Regions from separate parts of the Homo sapiens genome. Here region 1 is linked to region 2. Evidence: fine-mapped expression QTL. A gene starts in region 2. The other region holds a variant in brackets. All regions are shown on one strand. Distances are between the middles of the regions.

Evidence for each region. PIP is the estimated chance that this variant, and not a neighbour inherited with it, causes the effect.
Region 1: its variant is fine-mapped to the expression of FLNA in whole blood (TOPMed, PIP above 0.99).

The regions. Positions count from the first base shown.
Region 1 is chrX:154,341,392-154,356,968 of GRCh38, forward strand. It overlaps FLNA (filamin A), which reads right to left. Exons shown (of 48, transcript NM_001110556.2): 31 at 13,434-13,681; 32 at 13,225-13,320; 33 at 12,990-13,092; 34 at 12,760-12,900; 35 at 12,524-12,652; 36 at 12,163-12,336; 37 at 11,905-12,066; 38 at 11,610-11,813; 39 at 11,381-11,533; 40 at 11,162-11,284; 41 at 10,790-11,056; 42 at 10,493-10,630; 43 at 10,190-10,305; 44 at 9,518-9,650; 4 more. The coding sequence ends at 7,458. Among named protein-coding and RNA genes, the nearest start is that of FLNA, 25 kb to the right of the region's middle. RefSeq lists enhancers at 6,103-6,242, 6,273-6,362. The variant A/G (reference allele first, on the strand shown) is at 9,689.
Region 2 is chrX:154,368,499-154,378,979 of GRCh38, forward strand. FLNA (filamin A) reads right to left here and starts at 6,136. Exons shown (of 48, transcript NM_001110556.2): 1 at 6,008-6,136; 2 at 2,375-2,863. The coding sequence starts at 2,747. RefSeq lists enhancers at 1-408, 348-487, 2,517-3,042, 3,048-3,689, 4,874-4,923 and 1 more and silencers at 1,948-2,247, 2,668-2,727, 2,818-2,867, 2,918-3,017, 3,108-3,237 and 8 more.

The sequences.
Region 1 (15,577 bases), 25 kb before region 2:
CCCCCGCCAGGGGCTGGGATGGATCTCGCGGGCGGGAGGCGGAGGGTACTCGGCCCACCCCAGCGGAGGACACCGCGTGGGTCCGCTGAGATAACGCTCCGCGGTGATGGACTCCATGACTCCCGGAGCAGAGCCCTGGCTGCGCTGCACCGCGGGAGGGAGGGGCTGCGTCTACTGCGGGGCCACGAGAGGGAGGGGCCGGGGCCGGGGCCGGGGCCGGGGCCGGGGCCGGGGCGGGACAGGAACCCGCGCAAGCGCGGAAATGCCCACGGCCGCGCCCTCCCGCGCGCACCGCGGCGACACCCGGGCCGCCCTCGGAAGGCACGGACGTCGCGCCGCGCTCCCGGGGCGCTTCACTTGCGCCCACGGCCGACGCCCCGGCAGCGGCGGGCAGGTGCCACGACCTCTGGACGTTTGTCGCCCCTTCTCGGGAATGGAACGCTTAGAGAAGCGCAGGTCCACACCCAAAACACAAGGCGGCACTGTTGCGTGTGCACCGGCGACTCTGCGGCCAGCGCCCTGGGTCTCGCCCCGGGAACGCCTAGGAGCCTGAGAGCGCCGCGCCACACCCGGCAGGGCCGCAGCGGCGCGCACGCGACGGGGTGTCGTCCACTGGGCAGCAGGAGCGTCAGTCAAGGGCGAGGGGCGGGAATTCCGTGCAATCTGAGCATGGTCATTGGCGAGGACAGGCGAAGAGGAGGACGGATAGGCGGGGCTGGGCGGGGCTTCCCGTGGGCGCCTGGAGCTTACCAGGAGCGACCGAAGCGGAGGCGGGGAGCGAGGCAGCTGTGGGCCCCGGCGGGCGGAGACTAGGGCTGTCCCTCCACGCCCCGCCCCCGCCTCGGCACCGCCTTCCGCGCCTGCGAGTCCTGGGCCGGCCCTGCGGGGCATGCGCCGAGTCCCCTTCCTTTGCAGACCGGTGGTCACTGTCTTCCCCCGGGGACGAGGCGGACAGGCGTCGCCTGAGATCAGGGCCCGGGAAGCCCCGTGAGCCGCTCTCGCCTCGGCGCCGTCGAGGGGCCGCCCCGCCCTTCCCACTCCACTGTGCTGCGAAAGTGCCTCGGGGCGCGTCTGGGGGGTCGTGGGGAAGCAGGGCCGCGCCCACCCGGCAGCGTCCAGGGAGAGGTGGGCAGAGCGGGGCGGGCGGCCGTCTTGGGGGAAGTGGCGTCTGGAGGTGTCTGTGCACCATTCCGCGGTGGCGCGCGGTGGGGTAACAAAGTCTTCCCCGTCCCTTGACAGCGGCGGCCGCCGGGGAGGGAATCCTGCTCTGCTGCGGGCGGTCGTGGGCTGGGGCGCTTCCTGGCCTGACTGTCTCCTGGGGGAGGTAGGAAAGGCGAGCCCCGCAGAGAAGGCGGTGGCTTCCCTCGACGTGGGTGCCAACAGGAGCCATCCCTCCAGCCGGTCTTCCCGCGGGAGGGTGCCTGGGAACACCCGCAGGGCTGGTTCCAGCACCCATGGGACCGCTGGGTCCAGCCCAGTGTTTCCGGGGAAGCCCCGCCTTACCCGCCAACCTTCCCGCACCGGGAGGGTTCCCAGCTGCTGGTGATGCTGCTCAGGCGACTCCCCGCAGCGCCACCACCCACCCCCCCGGGAGCCGGCCGCTGGGTTTGGCCCGTCCGCCCTGGTTCCTCTTTGCTGGGCTCTGAGGCCCGGCGGGACTTCTCCGCGGCGGCTCTGGCGACCCAGCATCTCTTTGCCCTGGGGTCAGACGGGCTCCCAAGGAATTGCATCCCGGTGGAGAAGACGCTTCCTTCCCTCTCCCTTCCTCTCCTCCGCCCCCTTTTGCTCTCTTGTCCTTGCACTTTGCCTTGTCCGTGTGTCCGGCTCTGTGTGTGTGTGACTGACGCGAGCCCTTAGTCACCTCTTGCTACTATTTTCTCCCCTTATTATCACTTGTCTCTTGACTGTGTGGTTTGCGGGTTGTGCTTGGTCACAGAGGGGATTTTAGTTTTCGTGTCATCAGAATCTCCAGGCTTTCCTGATGGCTTCTGGGGGTTCTTGTCGGTTTGTTTCCTTCTGGCTCACGCCGTGTCTTGCCCCCTGGACGCTGGGCACCAGTTCCGACTACTGGGTAACAGACGACTTCACGTTTCGGTCCTTCCCCACCTAGCACTCGTCTCACCCCCCCAGCACTCGTGTCACCCCCCCAAGGGTTCTGAGGGACAGGCTCTGGGAGGGCTCTCGGGGAGCCAGGACTGTGGCTCAGGGTCCCTCTCAGGCTGCGGTCAGGTGTCCACTGGGGCCCAGCCATCCTATCTGACTGGGTGGGGAGCCCTCGTGATGACTCTCCCTCTGGAGGCTGTGGCAGGAGGCCTCAGTTCCTCCCCACCGGGCCTCCTCCCCAGGGCTGCTGGGCTTCCCCCGGACCTGCAATCCAGTCGAACCAGCAGGAGAGGGCGCCCCAGACCCGGCCACAGTCTCTTCATGGCCTGGTCTCCTAAGTGACTCGCCTCGCCTCCGCTGTGGTTTTTATTGGTCTCACAGGTCCACCCTGGCGCGTGCTGGAGAGGGCGCCACGCTCAGGGTGGAGGCTGTTCCTGAGTGCTGCGAGTCAGAAGCACCCTTGCACGTGTAGACCTGCGTCGGCTGCTGGAGATCCCGAGCGGGCCGCCTCAGGAACATGTCCTTGGTGTCAGCGGGAGCAGCAGGCCACCTCCTGGGGCTGACACTGGCCGGGGCCTGCATTTCTGAGGGCGGGGCGTGCTTTGACATCCTGAAAGGGTTGCAAAACCCATCACAGAGAACCCCAAGAAGGGAGACTCTGCCACCGAGACCCCGTGTGCCCCGCAGGGTCTGCGCCGTGTGCTCTCTGGCTCTTCATGGAAGCCTTTCCCAGCCCTGGTCGGGGAGCCCCGGTCCAACATCCCCAGGAGCCGGTGGGAAGCCCGTTCTGGTCTGCATGGCATGAGTGCCCCACGCCAGCCCGGGTGGCAGGATGTGCCCCCCACCTCCAATGCCCCCCTCCCAGGGGCTCATTCCTGCCCCTGTCCCCTCTCTGCCCCAGGTGGGGCAGCCTCTCTCTGCAGACAGGGGAGGCCTCTCCTCCCCGCATGCAGCCCTGAAGGGGAGGGGCCGGGGCAGGGAGGGGGTGTGCCGCGTCGTCATGGTGAAGGCAGAGCAGCTCCTTTTCTCCGTGATGTGTCAGGTTGCCGGATACTGGGCTCCGGTCCCTGGCCTGGAGGGTGGGATGTGGAGGGCCAGGTGGGTCCTGGAAGGAGCTTTCCACTGGGGCCCCAGGAAGACCTTGGTGTCTCGTTTCCCTGGAGACGTGCCCCATCCTTCCCACTGGGACTGGCAAGTGACTTGCTGATGACGCTCTCCGTGGCTCTGAGTTTGTCACAGAGGTTCCGTGGGCGGTGAGTGCTTTTCCTGTTGGCCCGCGCCGCCTCTGGGCAATGCGGGGGCCCTTGGTGACAGCTCCTGGCCCCTTCCAAAGCCGCCTGGCCCTTCTTGAACCCGACGAGAGCAGGTTGCCGGGCCTTCCCTGAGGAATGTGTTCCTGGCAAGTGGGGACAGCCCCTCCCCCAGGGTGTCGGGTACAGGGTCCTGGGGTGCTTCAGGACACGGTCAGGCCCACCGACCCCCCACACTCCTGGGCCACCTGCCTGCTGGCTGTCCTCTGTGACCCTCTCTCCCCTGAGCCGAGGTGCCGGCCCGATCCCGCGGGAAGAACAGCGAGGAGGGCCGGCTCTCCCTGCTATGGGGGCCTCGGGGGCCTGGACGGGGACTGTGTCCTCCCTCCCCGGGCTGCCCGGCGCCCTCGCTCAGGGAGTGCTCTCCTAGCGACCTGTTCGGCAGATGGGCACAGCCACGACAGCAGCCAGACCCTGTCCCGGCCCATGCACCCACCTGGACGGATCGGCGCCCTCCTGGACTTACTGGCTCCATTGAGGGTCCCAAAGGAGCTGCCCCAGAGCACCCTAGGGGCGTCCGGACCCCTCGGCCCGCAGCAGCTACCAGCAGCCCAGGCAGGACCCAGGGGCTTCCGGGCACAGAGGCGCCGCTCCCTGGCTCGTGAGCCCAGGGCCTCTCCAGCCGTCCCCTGTTGGGGGCCTCCACTCCTGCTCTGGATCAAGGTCCTGCCCCTAGGGAGAGCTGGTGCCTTCGGGGGAGCGGGCCCTGGTTGCAGTTGGAGAGTGGGTCCAGGGATGGTGTTCTGCTTGGCTGCCGCCCTGCCTCCTGGGGGCCTCCCCAGATCCCCCCCGGCTGCTGTCAGCTGGGGCTGAGGGGTCCTGTGGCCTAGGGGGCATCCTGGTTCGGGAGTGCCCTGCCCTGGACACCGTGTCCAGGAAGGATACATGCTCACCCTTTGTTGGGGGCCAGGCACAGGGTGAGGGGGCACTCGGCCCCACCACCCGTGTCTCTGGGAACCCTGGCTGGGTACGGCCCCTCTTCCGAGAGATCCTGCCCGGGACTGGTGCCGCCTGCCTCGGGCCTGCCCCCCACACAGTTGGGGACCCTGGCGGGGCACCTCCTGCCAGCCACCTGCTGCTGTCCTAGCCTCAGCCGGGCCCTGCAAGCTGTCCATGTGCCTGGGACACCCGGTCCCTCTGCAAATGTTTGCAAACACCCCTGCCCCCACAGGCATGTCTGGGGGCCTCTCTGGGCCTTTGTGTGCCGAGTTGGGCGTGGGTGGCGGCGGGGGTCTTTCCATAGTCACCTACTTCCTGTCCTCCTCGGCCCCAGGTCCAGCGGTGCCCTGTCTGCTCGGTTTCCAGCCTGAGCCCTTTCCTGAGCTGGCCCGGTCCCCTAAGCTTCTGCAGCAGGTTCCCAGGTCCACCCCGAGGGACTCCTGGCCAGTGTTCCCAACAGTGTCTGAGTGCTGGCCTCAGTCCCTGGCCATGGATTTTGGGGAACCCCGCTCTGAGGGGCCGTTGCTTCCCTTTCCTCTCCAGGTCCCCTCCCAGTTTCCTCGGAGAGCGGGGATGGGGCTGTTGGGAGGCGGAAGGGAGGGTTGGGGTGCAGAGGTGTGGCTTGGGGGAGGGAAGGTCAACTGGGCTACCGCCCCTCCCTGCCCTCCCTGGACTCAGTCCAGACACAACCTGCGGGTTGGAGGCCTGTGCACCCTTTATCTCCTCCTAGTAGCCTGGCGGGTCCTCCTGGGTCTTCCTCAGTGTGTGTGAGTCCCCAGGCCATAGGACCCGGCAGGGTGGGGGCCCGTGCTCTGCTCTTGTTTTTGCTCCTACTTGCCCGCCCTTCCCGGGGGGGGCCCTGGCCAGGACCGTGCCAGTCTCTTTCCCTGCTGCCTGCCTGCCTGCCTGGGTGGCCTCCAGCTCACCACCCTGTGAGGCCTGTGGCCTCCCGCCAGGGCTGTCCTCAGGGGCCCGGATCCCCCTAGTTTATCTTCTGCCCTTGCCGCCCCACATGTGTCCCTCCCTGCAGCCTGGGGACGATCGGCAGGTTTGGGGGACCGGTGCCCTTGGTTCACCTAGCCCAGCCCTAGGGCGGTGGCCCTGCCAGGCATGGGGCTTGAGAGGGGATGTGATGGAGCAGACACAGGGAGGGGGCAGGAGACCCTGGGTGACTCGGGACAGGAGGGAGTGCCCCAGAGGTTCAGAATCCTGGGCACACAGTGGGCTGAGCGGACAAGTCGCAGCCTCAGGGGGACCTCCCGTCCTCCCAACTGGCACTGCATCTTTCTGGGCCTGGCTCTGCTGCCTCACAGCCCCGTTCAGCTGGTGGCTTTTAGAGGCTTCCAGAGTGTGCTTGGCCCCTTTACCTCTATGCCATTGGGCCCAGGGGGAGCAGTAGAGTGGCTGCGGCTGGGGGTGGGACTTCCCCTTTCTGTGTCTTGCTTGCCCCGTGTCTCCCAGTGAGTGGCCGCCCTGAGCCTGGGGCCAGCAGCCCAGCCCCAGTGAGAAATAAAAGTAGCCATCCTGCCTGAACTGCCGCTGCCTTTTCTACTTTGCCCTCTCAACAGGGGTCAAGGAGGGTACGCGTGGTGTTGAGGTCTCAGAAGGTCTGGGTTTGACGTGTGCCATGGCTGCAGGCTACGGCCTGGTCGTGTCAGACGCTGTGGAGCTGAGGGAGGATGTGGCGAGAAAGCTGAGCGTTGCCCCCGAGAGCCTTGCTTCCTGGCCCTTGTCTGCAGATGTCTGAGGTGGTGGTGTCCTTGTCAGGGGTTTGATCGAGGGCCAAAGCCTTTGGCCCAGGGAGCAGGCAGCTTTGGGTGCTGCAGTTGGGATGTCCCGATAGCATGCAGGCAGCACCAGGAGCCAGGACGACTTGGGATGTTATGTGTTTGGGGGCAATCTTTACAGTGGGAGACACATAGGTTGGTGTGGGAATCCACGGCAGGGGTACCAATGAGGGGATATTCAGCAGGGGGCCCAGGGTACCTGGGATTGGCACCTTGAATGCATCCACCTCCTGCCACCTGTTAACTAAAGGGCCCTGAGGCCCAGAGCCTGGGGGAGGGGGCCTCATCCCAGTCCCTTGTTTGGGGGAATGGTGGCATGGTGGCATGTTCAAGTTACCTGGCAGATGGCCAGGGCCTGCTGTGATTTTTTTTTTTTTTTTTTTTTGAGACAGAGTCTCGCTCTGTCGCCCAGGCTGGAGGGCAGTGGCGCGATCTCGGCTCACTGCAAGCTCTGTCTCCTGGGTTCGCACCATTCTCCTGCCTCAGCCTCCCGAGTAGCTGGGACTACAGGCGCCCGCCACCACACCTGGCTAATTTTTTGTATTTTTAGTAGAGACGGGGTTTCACCGTGTTAGCCAGGATGGTCTTGATCTCCTGACCTTGTGATCTGCCTGCCTCGGCCTCCCGAAGTGCTGGGATTACAGGCGTGAGCCACCACACCCGGCCGGGCCTGCTGTTGATTATCTGGCCACCTCCACCAGGGAGCCTTCCTGACACCACCCTACCCAGTAATGGGCTCTCCTGCCCAGCTCTTTGCCTCCTTGCTGCCTGGGCTCCATTCCAGGTTGCTACATGTTCCTCTCCTTACGTTGGCTTGAACTCAGGGAGGCAGAGGAAGCAAAGATAGATGGTGCCTTCTGGAGTCAGGGTGGGGTGAAGCAGGAGCCCTGGAGGGAGGTGACCTGTGCTCAGCCCATGCTTTGATCTGCTCATTGGCACCCCTGTCAGGTTGGCCTTGACTGGTCCCCCAACCCCAACAAAGCTACAGCCACGCAAAGGAGAATGGAAGCAAAACTTTATTCCTCTTGGCTGGAGAAGAGAACTAGTGGGTGGTTGTGTACAGGACCCCCATCCCTCACCCCTCCCAGAACCAAAGAAGACAAGCAGCGCCACCAAATGGCTCCCTCTGCCCAAGTGAAAGCCGAGAGGTCAGCGGCTGGCTGGGGAGGCAGGTGAGCGCAGCACGGCACAGGGCAGGGGCGGCTGCAGTGACAGGCGGGCGGCCAGGGCGGCCTGGGCCGGGGTTGAGGGGAAGAGGGCGGGGCTGCTTGGGTAGCGGGGCAGGCTTGGGGGCTGCCGGCTGGCACGGGCCCCAGACTCAGGGCACCACAACGCGGTAGGGGCTGCCTGGGATGTGCTCGTCCCCCCATTTGACCACCAGTGTGTACTCCCCCTTGTCCTTGAGCAGGTAGGACACGCTGTAGAGCCGGCTGCCCACGTGCTTCACCAGGATCTCCTCGCAGGGGGTCCTTGGGCCATGAACCCCCACCAGCAGCATGTTGTTGCCTGAGGCAAGAGGGGTCCTCAGTCCCAGGTCCCAGCCCCCTTCCTCCCGCTGGTGTCCTGCTCTCCTCTCCTGTCCCTAAGCCAGTTCTGGGGTGACAGTTCTCTCTTCCTAAAGAGCTGCCAGCACCTCCCCAACCCAGGCCAGCTTAGCAGATTCCAGCTCCTCCCTGGTCTTTGTTTGAGGGGTCCAGGAGGTGGCAGGGAGGTGGCTCTAGAAGTGAAAGCCACGCCCCAAAGGCGGTCCCTGCTCTCCCAGACACTGGCCATCCTGTGATTTCTGGCCTCATTTTGGTGGGAAGGTGGGCCGGGGGCCCAGGTTGCCCACCTGCTTTGCTGCAGTCTACTGTGAAGCTGCTCTTCTGGCCTACGTAGGCCTTGCTCAGCCCCAGGCCCTTGGCCACCACCTTGCTGGCGTCAGCAGGCCCAGGACCCGGGGCCCCATGCTGGGGGGCACAGGTGGCCTTGGTCAGAGAGTCTACAAACACTGATGATGTCTCGTGGAGGCTGTGGTTGCTGACGAGACGGGGGCCTGCAAGGCAGAGTGGGTGGGGCTAAGAGGTGGCTGTGGTGCCGGGCGTTGGGCAGATGCCAATAGCTTGGCCCCAGGCTCACCTGTGACTTTGGCCTTGAAGGGGCTGCCCCCAATGTGGTAGGGGCCGCCGTACTTGATGGAGATGAGGTAGCTGCCAGGTGCCATGGGGGTATAGGTGACGCGGTAGCCCTCAGGGCACTCCTGGCAATCCATCTTCACCTTGGAGGGGCCGTCAATGGTCACCGACAGGGCACCAGCTCCCGCATTGCTCGTGTTCACGACGAACTCAGCTGGGTTCCCTGGGAGCACAGGAGGTCAGGCAGAGCCAGACTGGCCTGCCTCCCTGTCCTCGGCCACCCAGCACAGGCTTGTCACCTCCAGGTGCCTCCTGTTGTCACCAAGAGCTTGGAGGCAAGGGCCTAGCAGCTGTGTGCACACGTGCAGCCGCACCGACAGACTTACCTGTGACACCGCCTTCCAGACCTGCTCCGTAAGCAGACACCAAGCCTGGGTCCCCTCCATGCCCAGGCTCCCCAACTCGGATCTTGAAGGGGCTTCCAGGGATGTGGGTGCCGTTGAACTTGACGTCAATCAGGTAAACGCCATTCTCCCGAGGGATGAAGCGCACAGCATACTTATCTGAGGAGCAGGGAGTCATGCTGTGGGCCTGGGGCCCCTCCTCAAACCAGCAGATGGTGTCTGTGAGGAACAGCCTCAACCCTGGCCCTCCCCATTTTGCCGGTCCATCAGTGTGAGCCCAGCCACGCTGGGCACCTGCACCCCGCAGCAGACCTCCTGAGGGCCGAAGGTTTAGACACTCAAGCTGCCCACCGTCAGGGTGCATTGGGACGGAAATCTTTTACAAGCCAAACCCAGGCCTTGCTGCCTCCTAAGAAAGGTTACCGTGAACACCATATCCCCTGCATGTTAACAGGCTCAGAGACGGGCAGGAACTTGCTTCAGGTCATGCAGCTGGGAAGGGCAGGACTAGGCCGTGAAATGAAGCCCACTGGGCTCCTCCTACCCACAAGGCTGCCCCAGGCCTGTGCACAAGTACCATGGCCGTGGCTGAAGGGCCGGGCAGCACTGAGGCTGGACTTTGAGTCTTTCCCTGTGGAGATGGCATGGTACTGCAGGGTAGAAGGCCTTCCTAATAGCTGTGGGTGGCGAGCCACATCCCCAGCGGCTTGGGTCACCAATTGGGAAAGGGTTGCCTGGCTTAGGGGGCCCAGGAGTTGGGGCCCCGTCTTGGCTGCTTACAGAAGCGGTACCTTCCTTTTGTACTCTCAGCCTGCTTCCAGCCAGCAGGGCAGGGCGGCCGGGCAGGGACAGGGCCTCACCTTGGTCAATTTCTGTGACATAGCACTCCTCCAGGGCTCCTGAGGGGCTGTGCACCTTGGCATCGATCGCCCCCTTGGCCCCGTTCAGGCTGACTGCAAAAGAGGCTGGCTGGTTGACCTTTAGCCCTGACTCCTGGAAGCACAGCAGACATGGTTAGATGGGGGTGCTTG[A/G]GCCAGGGCAAGGGAGGACGGAAAGGCCCCAGGAGCAAGAGGCCCGCGGGTCGCACTTACCCATCTGGCGTCCAACTTGGTTTAAAGAGGGAGAGCCACTGATTTGCAAGGGGCAGCAAGCCACAGGCGCACATCCCCGCCCCTGCCCCCACACTCTGCCGTCGCACACACCCAGGTGGCAGGAAGGGAGGGCTGCCCCACCCTGTGGGCAGCACCCAGCCTTGGCAGGCTGTCCCTCTTTAAACCGCAGCCCTGGTGCTCAAGGGGCACAGGCTTCTGTTCAAAGCCTTTAGACCTGAGACACGAGAAAAACTCCACGTGGTGGGCAGGATATTTCCTGCCGACCCCAAGCGTGGGCTGCACCCGGCCAGAGCAGAGGCCTGGAACCCAGAGCTGGGCCAGGGGGGTCACTGAACACAGGGCCAAGGCCTGGTCTCTGCGGTGGCTCTGGTCTGTCCGGGCCCAGGAGCCCCAGGTGGGCGGTTTCTCTCGGTGCCTCACCTGAAGGCTAGAAACAGTGAGGCGGCGGGCGTCGCCAGACGGAGAAGCCACAGGCACCACGAAGGGGCTGTCGGGAATGTGTTCCTCGTTGAACTTGACTGAGACTTCGTAGTCACCTGGGCAGGGAAAGAGTGTAAGACCGGCTCATCAGCCTTTGGGCCTCCCACCTCCCACGAACAGCCTGGGTGGCCCTGTGACCTCAAAGTGAAGAGTGAGTGCCAGGCAGGGCTATCTGTGCCAGCCCTGGGTCCAATACCCACACTCAGGCCCCACCTCCTCCAACCCCAGCCGGGTTCCCAGTACCTGGCTCCTGGACCACATAAGCCACACCACAGGAGCCGTCCTTGCGGTCCTCAAAAGAGATCTCAGCCTTGCTGGGGCCCTCGACAGCAATGGCCAGGCCTCCAGCACCAGCTTCCCGGGTCCAGATACTGAATTCGGCTGTGGGAGAACAGTTTGTCCTCACTGAAGGCTGCTTCACCAGCCTCGGCCCCCTCCAGGCATAGCCAAGGTAGACATGCCTGCCGGCTCTTTCCTCCACCCCCAACCCCACCCTGGCCAACGCAGGAGAGCGAGCACTCGGGGTGTGAGCAGGCCTACCTGGCACTCCAGCTTCAGCTCTCTCCAGGCCAGGGCCCCCAGCTCGGACCTTGTGGGCTCCCCCTTCCCCTAGGGGCCCCACGGTGAACTGGAAGGGGCTCCCAGGCACGTGCTGGCCCTTGTACTTCACGCTGACTGTGTGTGTGCCCATCTCAGCGGGAACAAAGCGGATGCAGTAGGTGTGGTTCTCCCCTTCCACGATCTCGGCCTCATGGGTCTTGCCCGATGGGCTGGTCACCTGGGCTGTCATATCCTGGATGCTAATTTCTGCAGGGTGGGGATGGGCTAGTGAGCAGCAGCCCTGGGCTCCACCCCTCCTCTTGGGGCTGCTTGAGCCCCAGGACCCCTCCCCAGGCTTCCCACAGCCCCTACCAGGGATTTTCAGGCTGAGGTCACAATGACTACCAACGTTGGCCACTGAAGGAGCCCGACGCCTGCGGGTGATGCTCTCTTTCACCCGGCCCTCGCCTGTCACCTTCACAGAGAAGGGGCTGCCTGCAGGAAGAAAGCACGGCCCACGCCCCTCCAGTCACATACTGCCTGTGGGCCCTGGTGTAGTGAGGGGGGCTGCCGAGGCACTGCTGCACTCACCAGGCACGTGCTGGTCGGCAAACTTGATGTTGATGATGTAGTTGCCTGGCTCTGTGGGGCAGTAGGTGACCCTGCACGTCCCGTCCTCCAGGTCCTCTGTGTTGATGTCCACCTTGCTGGGGCCCTCAATGGACAGGCTGAGCCCACCATAGCCTAGGGGATGGATACCCCTGAGCCTCGGTGCTATGCACAGTGCTCCCGCCCCAGCTGGTGGGCAGCCACTGCCTACCTGCATCGCGGGTATCAATGATAAACTCTGCAGGCTCAAAGGTGTGGCCTTCGTGAAGGCCCTGACCAGAGACCCGAACACGACTGGCATCCCCAATTTCCGACTGGCTGATCACCACCGGGATGGGGCTGCTGGCCACGTGCTGGCCATTTTTCTTCACATGCACCAGGTGCTCCCCCGTCTCCTTGGGCACGAATGAAATCCCTGGACACAGGGCATGGCTGTCAGTCAGGGAGGGCATGGCTCCCCACAGGCTGCCTCCTTTCTGAACCCCCTGGACCCTTCAGCCGCTTACCCACGTGGCCATTACGCAGCCGCTTCAGCAAACAGGGCTCCTCCCGGCCCGAGGGCGGGACCACAGTGGCCGTCAGCAGGCTGAGATCCGTCTCTGAGATGTTGATGGGGATGTCGGCAGCAGAGCCGACCTTTAGGTGGGACATACGCATGGAGTCGTCACCTGGTGGGGACAGGCCAGCCATCAGTGTGCGTCCAGCCATGGGAGACCATGCCCACCCTGCCACCCGTTTCTGTCACTGCTCCCAGTGCCACCCACCTGTGACCCGAGCAGTGAAGGGGCTGCCTGGGACGTGCTGTTCATTGTACTTGACTAGAATGCTGTAGTCCCCCGGCAGCACAGGCAGGTAGGACACGCTGCATGTCCCATCCTGGTTGTCAGTGCAGCTGATTTCTGCTTTGGACGGGCCCTCAATGGCCAGAGACAGGCCCCCTGGAGAGAGCCGTGGGTGAGCATGGGAACTATGCTGGGGACACTCCAGTTGGCCTGCACTGAGGAGCTCCGATGGCCAGGGCAGCAGGGCAGGGAGCCCCATTCAGGAGTATCTCCTGAGTCCAGCCCTTACCCCGGTGAGGGCATCCCGGGCACAGAGCAGGTCAAGACCAGAGCTATTGCTCACCCTCTCCTGCATCCTTGGTGTTGACGGTGAAGGTGGCAGGCTTGTTCACTACTCCATGGGTGAGGCCAGGCCCATAGGCAGTGACATGGCCACAGTTGACGTAATCCACATAGAACTGCAAGGGGCTTCCTGAGGCAGGAAGAAGGGCCTTGTGGAATGGCAGCCTCGTGTGTCCCCCAGCCCCATCTCTCTGTGAGGTGGTGGCGGTGGAGTGGGCAGAGGCAGGGCAGGCCCACCTGGGATGTGCATGTTGTCATAGCGGATGTCCATCTCGTGCAGGCCAGCCTCGCTGGGTGCATACCGCACGGTCACGGTGCCGTCTTTGTTGTCAGTGATGGTGGGCTGCGCCACCTTGCCTGAGGGCATCCGAACCTCCCCTGTGGGGCAGTGGGGCTGAGGTCAGGGCAGCTCATTGGCACAGTCTGGCCTCCTTGGCTCCCGAGCTCCTTCCCAAGTCCCCACTCACCTGTGATCTCGCCCTTCTTGATGGTGAAGGGGATGACAAGGTCAAAGGGCCTCAGGCTGGTCACATCCAGCCCATTGACACCCACCAGGGGCCTCTCCGGGGCCTGCAGTGGAGACACAGGGCATGGGTGAGGGACAGTGGGAGGATCTGGGGTCCCTCCTCACACATGGTAAACTAGGGGCTCACAGAACACCCAGCTGGCTAGCCCCAGTGTCCCTAGCTGGCCAGGCCGTACCCAAGTCTGCTGGCCGCCCTGGGCGTAGGTGTACTGTGGGGCCAGCTGCTGAGACCGTAGAGGGGGCTGCACCGAGGGCTGGTCCCCAGCCAGAGCCTGCAGGGCAAAGCAGAGAGCTGCTGGAGAGTCTGTTGTCACAGAGGGGCCCCAGGGGAACAGGCCGGGACCTGCCAGACACCCCTGCTGACCTACCCCCCACCCCTCCTCACCGTCACTTGGAAGGGGCTGTTGGGCACGTGCTCGCCACCAAAGCGCACACAGATGACGTATTTGCCCGGCTGGGGGGCCGTGTAGAAGATGTCGAAAGTGCCGTCCTCATTCTCCACCACGTCCACATCCACCTCTGAGCCATCAGGCGTGCACACGGTGCACGTCACTTTGCCTTTGCCTGCCGCCTTAGTGTCCACAGTGATCACCGTCTCCTCCCCAATCTGAATGGTGGGGCCGATGCCAGCACCTGGTGGGGCAGGGTGGGTCCCCAAAGGGGGGCCAGCGTGTGAGCTCGGGTTCAGGTTGTTCCCGTCCGCCTGCCGCCCACACAGGCCTCTCATTGCCACCACCAAGCACAGCCAGGCCGCCAGGCCTCCTGCCCCGCCCTGCCCCTCCAAGCTGGGATGGCGAGTGGTTTCTCAGAAGGCAGGAAGGTTTCTCCTGACCACCTCAAGTGCCCATGTGGGAGAGGCCCGACAGTAGCACCCAGGTGCCTGGGAGGAAAAGGAAGGGCCCACTCCAGCCTAAGTGTTGACAGCCACTCCCTTGCCTACTCAGCCTCGTCCAGCACCATGGCCCACACTGCTGAACGCCAGCATCTGGCTGGGCACACGGCTGCCTGCGCCCTTCTGGCCTGGCCCCGGCCCCCATTGCTGTGTGTGGACGCGGTGAGGCGGAGTCCTGCTGCAGCGTGGGGGGATGTGACACTTGCCTCCCCACCCCCCAGGCCTGATGGTGAAACCGGAGTTTCCTGACAACTGAGAAGGCTCGCGGTGAAAAGCAGCCCGGTGCAGACAGGAGTGGGAGCGGGGAAGCGGGAGGCAGCGGGGTTAGCACCCGAGTAGCGCAGCGCAGCAGGCTTGGCAGAGCGGGGATAGCACCCAGGGAGACAGGGAACAGGAGGCCCAAGCTACAGCCACCACTGCTGGGTTGCGAGGGCAGAGCAGCTGAGCAGGCTCCAGGGCCCCAGAGTGCCCGAGGAAAGGGGAGAGACAGTGACGTTATGATCTGGGTCTCCGCCGTGGAGGCTTGGGGGGCTGTGGGCTGTGAGGCCTGGCAGTGAGAGTGCCCCCTGCAGCCTGGCCTCCTGCCAGGGAAGCAGCCAGGAGCACGAAACCTACTTGAAGGCCAAGCTCGAGGGGCCCTGCCACCAAGTCCCACTATCGGCCGAGGGCTCCTGCTGCACTAGGCTCCATGCTGGCCTGCCGCGGCCAGGCAGCTCTCCCAGGCTCCAGACCTGGCTGCCGGCTGCCCACGCTGCCCTGGGAGGCTTCACTCATGTGCACCCCATGCCATCTAGTTAGTGGCTTGGGCCCCAACCTCACAGGTACCCGACTGCCCCCACTTTCCCTGCCCGGCTCCCAGCCAACCGCAGGTCTCAGCCACTCCATCCTCAAAGTATGCCTCCTAATTTGGCTCTCACTGAAGCCCCGTGGCCGTCAAGCTTGCCAGAGAGCAACTTCAGCGCCCCCTTCCCCACCCCGGGCTCCCTGTCTCCATTCTGCAAACAGTAGCCAGGGAAACTGAGGTTACTGAGTCTTGCTCCCACCCTCAAAGCCCCCAAGGCCCTGCAATCAGTACTCCCCAGCCTCCCCCGCCCTGCGCACACACGCCTGTCACACACACATCGGATCCTACGGCCTGCTCTATAAAGCCATCTCGCTCCTGCCGCAAAACTCTAGCCACCCTCTCACCCTTTCCTTAGCCACCTCGCCCAAGTGCCAGGCCTGTAGCCTCTCATCAGCATCCCTGGGTGTCCCTGGCTGGGGCAGGTGACCCTCCATGCCTGTTGGGGAATGTCTGAATAACGTCACTGCTGGGGGATAGGGGAAGGGGGAAGGAGGGAGACGGGCCACAGAATGCACTTTGGGGCTCTGAGGCTGGGCCGGGCCCCGCCATGCTGGCCGCCCAAGCAGTCGACACTGGCGCTACTGCACTACCAGCCAGCCCCACCCGCTCATGCACCTCCCCCGGCCCGGGACGCAGAGGCCCCTGGAAGGTGGGGATGGGGGTCTGTGGATCTGGCCAGGGCTGGGGCTCCCATTGAGTTGGGGAGACCCCTTGTTCCCTCAGCCCACGCAGGAGCCCTTGTGCCTCCCTGGGTGCCAAGATCCCGAGACCCCAAAGTCCCCAGTGGGGTGCC
Region 2 (10,481 bases):
GACTCCAGCTGGCCCAGAATCCAGGGCCCATGACCTGGAGTGGGGCTGGGGCTGAGGAAGAGGAAGGTGGGTGGCCCTGGGTGGTTGGGAAATACAACTGTTGTTCCAGGGTGGGTGGGGTGAGGCAGGGGAAGTGGGGGAGTTGGGCAAACGCCCTTTGGGTGAGGGATTGTGACCCCCGCCACCACCCCCACTTCCTCTACCACCTCGAAGACTCAAGCTTGGAGTTGGGAGGCCACAGGCCTAGCCAGGGGAGGGGCCCAGAGCCCAAAGGAACCAGCAGTTGGGCCACATGGCCCTGACTCACTGGGGCCCATCGGGAGATGCCGGGGTGGCAGCAGGAGACACTGGGAACCCCCTTGCCACCCACTGCCTGACCCACTTGCCACCTAACGGGCCTCTGGGCCTCGGCAGGCTCGCCACAGGGGAAGTGGTTAGGGCGGGTCCCTGACACCCCCCATCACCATGGCAACCCTGCTGGGCTCTGGGCCCCACCCAAGGCTACTTCTGGGTCTCAGGCTCAAGGCAGGATGGCTCATCTTTAGAAGCCCTGTCAGCCTCCCCCATAATCAGACAAAATACTTCTCTGGTGAGTCAACTAGGGGGCGGGCCTATGAGGAGGGGCTGGGCTGTCCATGGCAGCTGCTTCCCAGCCCAGCAGGCAGCACCTGGAGGGCCAGGTGAGCCGCTCAGAGTGGCCTCCCCAGTTCCCAGGTTGGTCCTGGCCCCACGAGGCTGCCTTTCACTCTCCCCAAATGGCAGCAGGGAGGGGGACTCGGAGAGGACCAAGGGTGCAGGGCCAGGGAACAAGGCCAGCCAGGGCTTCCCATCAGGCCCCCACCCCAGTCCAGCCTCAGACCCCTCAACGACCCCCACACGGGGAGCAACCAGGCCCACCAGGTCCATGTTAGGCCAGCCTACTCCGTCCCCATCCCCCTCCCAAAAGAGAGAGGGAAGGACCAGGGCCCAGGGCTGGGAGACTGTCTGGCTGGATGGCCCCGCCCCATCCCACCCCCCTTTCCCCAGCCCCTGGGCCAGCCAACCCCTCCCTCCCCTAATCACTGCTGCTTTCCAACATTTTTTTGCCTTATATGGCAAAGCTCTGGGAACTAGGCCTGCTCCAGCCAGCTCACAAGGAGGAGGGGAGCTGGGAGGAGGGAGGAGACCCCCCCTAAAGAGCTGGGGTGTGGCCCGCCTCCCCACATCCGGTCGCCCCCCCTACCATCCAGGACTGAGATGACTCAGCTTGGCTAGACTGAGGCTGGGACTTGTGGGGGTGGGCCTGCCCCTCGCCTCAACTGGCATTCCAAAGAAAGAACTTTGGTTCTTGGGATCTGCCCTCTGAGTGGCTGGGGGAACCCAAGTCTTGGTCCCTCACTTTCTTGGGTTCAGCAAGGGCCATTCCAGGGCTGCAGGGTAACTGGAAGGCCTCTCAATTCTGAAGAAGAGAAGACTCATCATCCCTCTCCTCTCCCTGTTCCACATCACCCCCGAGTCACCCATTCTGGGGCCTGCCCTCTCATGCAGCCCCTATCTTGAGAACGAATTGGGCTGCTGCAGCAGGCCTGGTCAATGCCAGCCTCTCCAGTCCAGTGACACAGACACTGGGCTGGCACAATGCACGCTGGAGCATCTACCAACCAACTCCTGCGTGCTACACGCAGAAAAGCAAGGCCTACATGGAAGCAAGAGTTTGGCCCAAGATGAAGAGAAAAGTTGGCGTCCAAGTAGTCTACAAGCCAGGTCTCTCAGTCAACCACGCCCAACTCACCCCGGGTGCAGTTTTGCTAACTATGCTTCTTTCTGGCCCCCAGGTTGCCTGTGTGTGTGTGGGGGGGTAGATCTAAACTGGTGGTTGGAGCCATCTCCGATGGGCGACCCATCCTCCAGGGACACAAAGAGCCCAGAGCCCCAGACAATGGGACGCACGAGCTCCAACCCACACTTCAGAACCAACGGGCCTCTGAAGGCCAGAGGGCCCTCTCTAAACAGCTGTGGGGGGAGAGCCCGGGCCTCCTCCTCCTCGGGGACGGGGCGCAGGGCCAGGAGCCTGCCCAGTGCCCGACCCCCCAGGCCCACTCCCACCGCGAGCACAGCCGCGGAGGCGCGGCCTGCGGAGGATGTGAGTTCAGCCTGGGCGCCGGCCAGCCGGGGCGCAGCGGGCGGGGGCGCGTAGCGGTTCGCACGCCCGGCCGGCCAGCCAGCCAGCCCGCGCGCCTTTGTTCTGCAGGCCCGCGTGGAGCAGAGCAGCCGGAGGCCTCGGGAGTTGCGCTGCGGCCCGGAAGGGGGTGGTTTGGAGGGGTCCGCCCGGGGAGATGGAAGGACGCACGGAGTCCCCGCCCCCGCCCGCCCGGCGCTTCGGGGCGTCCCTCACCGATGGACACCAGTTTGATGCTCTCGCGGTCCAGGAACTCGAGCGCCACCGACACGTTCTCAAGCTGCATTTGGCGGAAAGTGGGCCGCTGGTTGTGCTTGCGGTGCATCTTCTTCTGGCTGAGCACCTCCAACAGCGCGATAAGCCGCAGCCCGTCGCTCAGGTCCGTCTGCAGGTTGGCGATGCGCTTGCTCACGCACTTCAGGTGCTCGTTGCACCAGCGCGTGAAAGTGTTCTGCTGGATCTTCTTCCACGGCGCGTCCTCCGCCAGGTCCTTCTCGGTGGCCGGCATCTCGGCGTCCCGCGTGTCGACGCCGCCGCCCGGAGCCGCGCCTGCTGCGCTCTGGCCCGCCCGAGAGTGGGAGCTACTCATTTTGAGGCGCGAGAAGCCGGGGGGGCGGTGCTGCAGCCTCGGCGAGGGGACGGCCCTTTAATTAAAGTCGCAGGCACCTAGGCGCGCGGGAGGCGAGGCAGGGAGCAGAGGTTGCGCTGCGGAGAGAGCGAGCCCTTTAAATGCGGGAGGAGGGCGGGGCCAGAGGGCGGGCCTCCTGCGGGGAGGGGCCGTGGGGTGGGGCTTCGAGGGCGCGCCTGCCCCACCCCGCCCCGCCCGTTGGAATGCCCCCACTAGGCCCCCGGGTTCGGCTGATCAGACGCGAAACCCGGGCTCCAGGGTGGGTCGCTGGGCAGTGGGGTGGGCAAGGATGCTCCCAGCCCCGCAGCCTCGCGTTGGCGCTGCAGGAAACGCGCCCTAGAGCGAGGAAAGGCTGAGCAGTGTCTGGCGCGGGACTGCTTGGCCTGCAGCCGGCGCGCCTTACAAGGGACTTTCCTTCCCCAGGGCCCCTGCGGGGGGTGGGGTGGCTCTCTTCCCTAAGTCACTTGGGCTCTGCCCCGTCCCTGCACATCCCTACCCCCCGCCGTCATCCCCCTTCCCCGGGCCCCCAGGGCCTAGGGTTCCCCGGCGGCATCCCCGTCCGCCGGCCCGGCAGCGGCGGGAAGGGGCCAACCCTAAGAGCGAACCCCTGGAGAGCGGCAGCCCCGGACCAGGCACTGCCGAGGGCGCTTTGTGTGCTCATCACCTGGGAAGCGGCTGCAGGGCAAGGCCTGCGCCTACGCGGTCCCCGCAGACCCCCTGCCACGGGCCCGCCTTCCCAGTCCGTAGGGCCCTCGCCCGCGCACCTGTGCCCGCTGCTTCCCACCGCCTCCCTCTCTGCTTCCCTCCACCCGGGAGGATATGGGGCACTGGGCCAGGAGGCCGCCGGCACTCCAGGAGCAAGCAGCCTTCGAAGGGGTCCGGGCATGCCCACGGGCACGCCAGTGGGCGCGGGCAGAGGGCGCCGTGCGATGCATGCAGAGACGTGTGCCCGCCTAACCCTTCATGCCAGTTCACCCGGGGCACTGGGGGGAGCTGAAGCGGGGGGTCCTCTCCTGTCGGAAAGTCCCCTCAGCCCAGCGTGGCCAGGGCAGGGGGCAAACACGGGAGTGGCATTCCAGACCCAGAGGGGCCTGCTCAGAGGTTCCCATAAGACTTGTCAGGCTCTGAGCACCTGGGTCTGGGTGGGCTTCAGGTGTGGTGGCAGGTGCAGAGGAGGCCTGAGGACAGGGATCAGGGGCCTGGGGGGTTGTGTCCCCAGAGCTGTGGGGGCTCTTCACTCAAAATTTTCTGGTAGATAACTCTGGAGATGGTGCAGTGGCTGCTGTGCCGAGATGTAGACTGGGACCAGGGGACGGCTGGGGACGCTCACTGCTACTATCTTCAGTCAGAAGCCAGCCTGCCTATGGCTTCCTCCCCATTGTGCACTCCCCTCCCTCTCAGTCCTCGGTACCTCCCCTCTCCAGAATGTTTCCTCCTCTGAGTGTTTTTTTTTTTTTTCTAGGAAGGCAGGTATCTGTCCCTCCTGTTCAATTCTAGTAATAATTAATTTATCTGCTAAAGACCAGTGAGAGATGGAGGCCCTGGGTTGGCCAGCACGTCATGCCCAAATATGGTTGACTCTCCTGTAGCCCTGGGTGTCTACATGACACGTGGTGGGGCTGTGATCCGCCCAGCACATTCACTTCGGGGCAGCCTGTGGCCCCACTGGTTTTTCCCACTAGTAGTGGTGTTAGGGGGTGCAAATGGCATTTTCCAGTACTGAGGCCAACCCCTGTATATTGTCCCCTCTCCTGACCACTTTGAGACACACCTGCACCAAGTGCGCCTGGGCGTCTGGGAGCTGGGGTGGAGGTGGGAGGGAGGGCTGGGAAGGGGGAACCCATACAGACCCCTCCCTGCACGGGCCCCATTCAAGACGGGCTTGAAGTTGTCCTTCTGGTCCCCCTGCCCCACTGGAAAGCAAGTTCCCAGGCACGGAATTCCATCAATAATTGACTCTCTCTCCACTAAGGGCCATTGAGCTGGGTTGTCTGGGTTCATTCCTTAATCTTCAGAGCTCAGGGAAACTGAGTCAGAGTGACCAGTGGTCAATTCCAGCAGAAAGAGTGTCAGGAGGTGGGTGCCGTGTCTTCCAGCCCTAGCTTTTCCCTATTTAGAGGAAACAAGGAATGGGCGTGTAGAGGGTTCTTGTCCCTAGAACATAGTATCAACCGCCAGATGTCGCCCGATCCCAAAGCCACCAGATCGGGCAGTCCTGGGAAGCCAAAATCCAGCTCTTTCATATTTTCCCTTATTTGGAGTAGATTCTTGGATGTTAGGCACACCCCGCCCACCACACCACCCCTGGCCCTCAGACCCCAGGCCAGACCCTCCCACTGGGAGGTATAGCCCAAGCCCAGGAGCTGTTCAGCTGGGATCCCTAAGGAGCTGTTTCCAGGCCTGCGTAGCCAGGGGGCGCAGGAGGGAAGGAAGCCGCAGACTGGCAAGGTGAGAAGAGACCTGTGCTGGCAAGTCCAGGTGCGGCAGGTGAGGTCGCCCATTCCCAAGCTCCCACCTTGACGGTGCACTCGGAGCACTTACAAATGGGTCTGCCAGTGGATTTTAACCTATTTTGCCTGGCCCCAGGTGGCACGGGAATCTGGGGACATTGTTGGTTATATCCTGGCTGGCAGTGCGCATCCAACTCAGAGCCAACCTGGCATAGGGCCCAGGGCCCAACCAAGGAACCTGGCCTGGTCTCATCCTCACCATGGCCCCCATGGAGTAGAGCAGCCCCAGAACCAGCTCCCCTGTGCCCAAAGCAGCTGGTGCCCTGTGGACTCGAGCCAGCAAGGGACACGCTGTCCCCCTCCCAGTGGGCACACTGGCTGAGAAGTGTCCTTCCAGGTGGCCACTCGCCCTGAGTCCACACAAGTTCCTGGTGTCAGGGCCCTTCTCTCTCAGGCATGCAGTGGTCCGTTCATGGGCAAGTGCCCAGACACCCTCTCTCTCTCGGGGACCCCCCATGGCCTCAGGCTCCCACATTCGTGGGCACAGACATGGCTCGTGGGTCAACTAGGGAAGCTATTCTCTGGACACTCACTCCCAGATGCCAGGGGAGCCTCCATCGGCTCACGCATCCCAGCTGAACCTGGCCCGGACCTGGGCGCGAGCTGGCGCCTGCGTTTTCCGGCCTCTCTGCCCGCCTTCTCCAACCCCGCCCCCGGCCGACGAGGAGCGCGGCGACCCTACGGCGCGAAGCCGGGCCGCGGAGACCTCACCTGCTGTTCCTGAGAGCGACCGGTGACCGATGACCGCGGGGTGGCGCCCGGATCGCCTTCGCGCCCGCGCCCGCGCCAGGCGCCTCGGGGATTCTGTCGGCGTCCGCTGCGCGCGACGCGCCTCCACGCGAATGGGCCGCCGCCGCCCGCCTTCTTGTTGGCCGCACCCCCGCCCCGCGCCCGCCCCGCGCCCGGCCCGGCCCGGCGAGAAAGCCTTAATTGGTAAAATTGCCCAGGAGCCCGGGACGGGTGCGTGGGGGGCGGGGGTGCGGGGGCACGCCGTGAGCTCCAGCGACCCGCCGCCGGGCGACGCCGCCCCCCGAGATGAGCTCACCGCCGGCGAGGGCCGCCAGGCCCTGGGGGAGGGAGGGCTTCGTGGGGGAGTCGCCTCCAGCGCCCACAGGGACTGCAGGGCTCGTGTCTAGGCCCAATCACAAGGATCCTGCGTGTCTGAGTCTGGGGGAGCCAAGCGCACCCCAGGTGGAAAGGCCGAGGCCCAAGGCCACCTTCTCCAAGGAGCCACCCACAGTCACAGCCCCTGGTGTCTGTCCCAAGCCGGGATTGTTTCCTGGGGTGGGGGCAACAGGTCGTTGCAGGTGTTGGCTGGGCGCCTACGTCAGGCAGGGCCCCGGGACGGGACTGCAGGGCTCCGAGCCCTGGGATGAACCTGACTGCCATGGATCAGGCGCTGCCAGGTCTGGCCTGGGGTGGGCAGCAGAAACAGGATCGCTCAGGGGGACGAGAAAGTTAAGTTTGTTTAGTATTAAGAAGATTCTGATCTTAAAGAAAACATTGGCCGGGCATGGTGGCTCATGCCTATAATCCTAGCACTGTGGGAAGCTGAGGCAGGTGGATTAATTGAGCCCGGGAGTTTGAGACCAACCTGGGCAACACAGCAAGACACTATCTCTACCAAAAATATAAAAATTAGCTGGGCGTGGTGACGTGCACCGGTAGTCTCAGCTGCTCAGGAGACAGATGGGAGGATCGTTTAAGCCCGGGAGTTTGAGGCTGCAGTGAGCTATAATTTCACCACTACACTCCAGCCTGGGTCACACAGTGAAACCCTGTCACTAAACATAAAAAAAAAGGCCAGGTGCGGTGGTTCATGCCTGTAATCCCAGCACTTTGGGAGGCCGAAGTGGGTGGATCACGAGGTCAGGAGTTCAAGAACAGCCTGGCCAAGATGGTGAAACCCCGTCTCTACTAAAAATATAAAAACTAGCCGGGCGCAGTGGCAGGCGCCTGTAATCCCAGCTACTCGGGAGGCTGAGGCGGGAAAATCGCGTGAACCCGGGCGGCAGAGGTTGCAGTGAGCCGAGATCACGTCACTGCACTCCAACCTGGGTGATAGAGACTCCGTCTCAAAAAAAAAAAAAAAAAAAAAAAAAAAGGCCGGGCGTGGTGGATCCCAGCACTTTGGGAGGCTGAGGCAGGTGGATCACGAGGTCAGGAGTTTGAGACCAGCCTGGTCAACACAGTGAAACCCGGTCTCTACTAAAAATACAAAAATTAGCTGGGCGTGGTGGCAGGCGCCTGTAATCCCAGCTACTCGGGAGGCTGAGACAGGAGAATCGCGTGAACCTGGGAGGCGGAGGTTGCAGTGAGCTGAGATTGCGCCACTGCACTCCAGCCTGGGTGATAGAGCTAGACTGTGTCTTGGAAAAAAATAATAAATATAAAAATAAAAATACAAATAAAAAAATAACGTTAACAGCTCAGTGAACAATCATCTACTTGTCATAGACACTGAGGAATGTTTCCATGTTGATATTTTTTCCTCGTAACTCAATCATGTTGGGATTGTAAGTTATACAGCATATACTGCTTGCAAGCCATTCCATCCTTAAGGAGCAACTCAGTTTTCTTATTCTTGACTTAGAATTGGTTGCATCCCGATGTCTCCTCTGCCTGCACTTCCCAGGAAGAACCCCCTGAGGCCCTCAGATTTTCCTGCACACGCCCTTCCCAGACCCTCTGATGACTGCAAATCCCACCCTACCCTTGACGGGAAACTCTCTGAGGCTGTCCAGGTCATCACCCCCAGGGACCAGGTACTGGTGGGGGAATGTTCCATGAATTAATTGCTGTACTCAGGGCTCTTGGACAAGTCTCCCCTGATCGCAGGGTCCTGACTCTCCCTGTATAAGATGGAGGCTCTGCTGCTCAGGAGCCTGCCTGGCTTCCAGTGGTCTGGAGTGGAGCTGCACTGCAATGGGGCTGGACTTAGGCTCCAGGTACCCACAGGGTGGGTGCAGGGGGACCATCACAGTTCAGCTTCCTGGTGCCATCTGTGGTGGGACCTGATTGTGGGGCAAAGGGGTGGGACATAAAAGGCAGAGTGTCGAGGCAGGTACAGAACGGGTGGGGGGTGCTCCTTAGGGAGAAGGCAAATCTAGAATTCCTTGACCTCATAAGGAAACAGCTTGGATCCGTATGGGGAGGGGTGGCATGGGGGAGGATGGAGCAGCACTTAGTACACAGAGGCCTCTGGGAGAGGGGCCAGGATTGCAGAAGGCTTGCAGAGGTGCTGGGGAATCTGATTTTGTCAAAACTAAAAAATCCACAAGGCAGCCTCTGAGCAGCCCAGAGTCCAAACTGCCATCTGTCCCCTCAGCTCTGAAAGATGAGGTGCAAACCCCTGCCCTACCCAAGGCTCTCCTGCTGCACACTGCCAGGCACTGTCTTCATGGACCCACACTTCCTTCCATATTGCTGGGGACACAGTGGGGCCTTGCCAACAGTGATTCCTCTTTGTTAGGATCTTTGCGTGTAGTCAAAACAGGGCCCCATCTCCTCATTACTCCCCCAGGTGTCTACCTCTTCCCACCCCATGGGCAAACCTCCATGGATGACTGGTCTGTGACCCTCACCAGCCAGGCCAGCCATTCTGGACATGACCAGAGCCCTCCCCTCTTCTTCCCTTGTCACCAGCCCTCAACTGTGAAACTACAGATGGCATGTCACCTCTTCATGCTCCCAGTTTGGGGCCTACCCAGTGAGGGGCACACTAGTTGATTCCATACACCCTCAGCTGGCTTTGTTTAGAATGTGAATGTCACAGCCAGGCGCGGTGGCTTATGCCTGTAATCCCAGCACTTTGGGAGGCCGAGCCGGACTGATCACTTGAGGTCAGGAGTTCGAGACCAGCCTGGCCAACATGGTGAAATCCTGTTTCTACTAAAAATACAAATACTAAATACTAAAAATACAAAGCCAGGCATGGTGGCATGTGACTGTACTCCCAGCTACTCGGGAGGCTGAGACAGGAGAATCACTTGAACCCGGGAGGTGGAGGCTACAGAGAGCCAAGATTGCACCACTGCACTCCAGCCTGGGTGACAGAGCGAGACTGTCTCAAAAAAAAAAAAAAAAAAAAAAGAATATGAATGATGAATGTCACCTCCTTTCTCTTCTCCATGAGACAGCCAATATCTGATCAAGGCCCTGGGAATGGGAATCCATAGCTCGCCACCCACGTCTGCCCCCTGCCTAGCCACGCTGCGCTCAGGGACCATTCCGACAGGAGAGGACGCCCCACTTCAGCTCCCCCCAGTGCCCCGGGTGAATGAACGGCATGAAGGGTTAGGCGGGCACACGTCGTCTCTGCACGCATCGCACGGCGCCCTCTGCCCGCGCCCACTGGCGTGCCCGTCGGCATGCCCGGGCCCCTTCGAAGACTGCTTGCTTCTGGAGTGCCAGCGGCCTCCTGGCCCAGTGCCCCATTTCCTCCCGGGTGGAGCGAGGGAGGAGGAAGGGAAGCAGAGGGGTAGGCGGTGGTAAGCAGCAGGCACATGTGCGCGGGCGAGAGCCCCGCAGACTGGGAAGGCGGGCCCATGGCAGGGGGTCTGCGGGGATCGCGTAGGCGCGGGCCTTGCCCTGCAGCCGCTTCCCGGGCGATGCGCACACAAAGCGCCCTCGGCAGCGCCTGGCCCGGGGCCCGCGCTCTCTTAGGGTCCGGGCCCTTCCCGCCGCTGCTGGGGCGGCCGACCGGGATGCGGCCGGGGAACCCTAGGCTCTGGGGCCCTGGGAAGGGGGACGACGGCGGGGAGTAGGGATGTGCAGGGATCGGGCGAAGCCCAAGCGACTTAGGGACCAGAGCCACCCCAAGCGCCGACTTCGCCCGCTCGCACGTCCCGGGTCCCTCGCGCGCAGGCCCCGCCCCTCTCACCCCGCCGCACGCCACAGGGTGACGTCTGGGCTCCCAGCCGCATCGCCCTGACTCCCGCGCGGGCCCCGCCCCCTGCCGCTAGCCAATCTGTGCGTTTGTGACTTTTGGGCCCGCAGCCCCGCCTGCTCCCACAGCGATACCGGTTTGCATTGCCCTGACTCCCGCGCGGGCCCCGCCCCCTACGCCGCTAGCCAATCCATGCATTAGTGGCGTCCGGGCTCGCAGTACCGCTCGCTCCCACCGCGAGACCTTCTGCTCCGCGCCCGCGCGGGCCCCTCCCCCTCCATCGCTAGCCAATCCCCG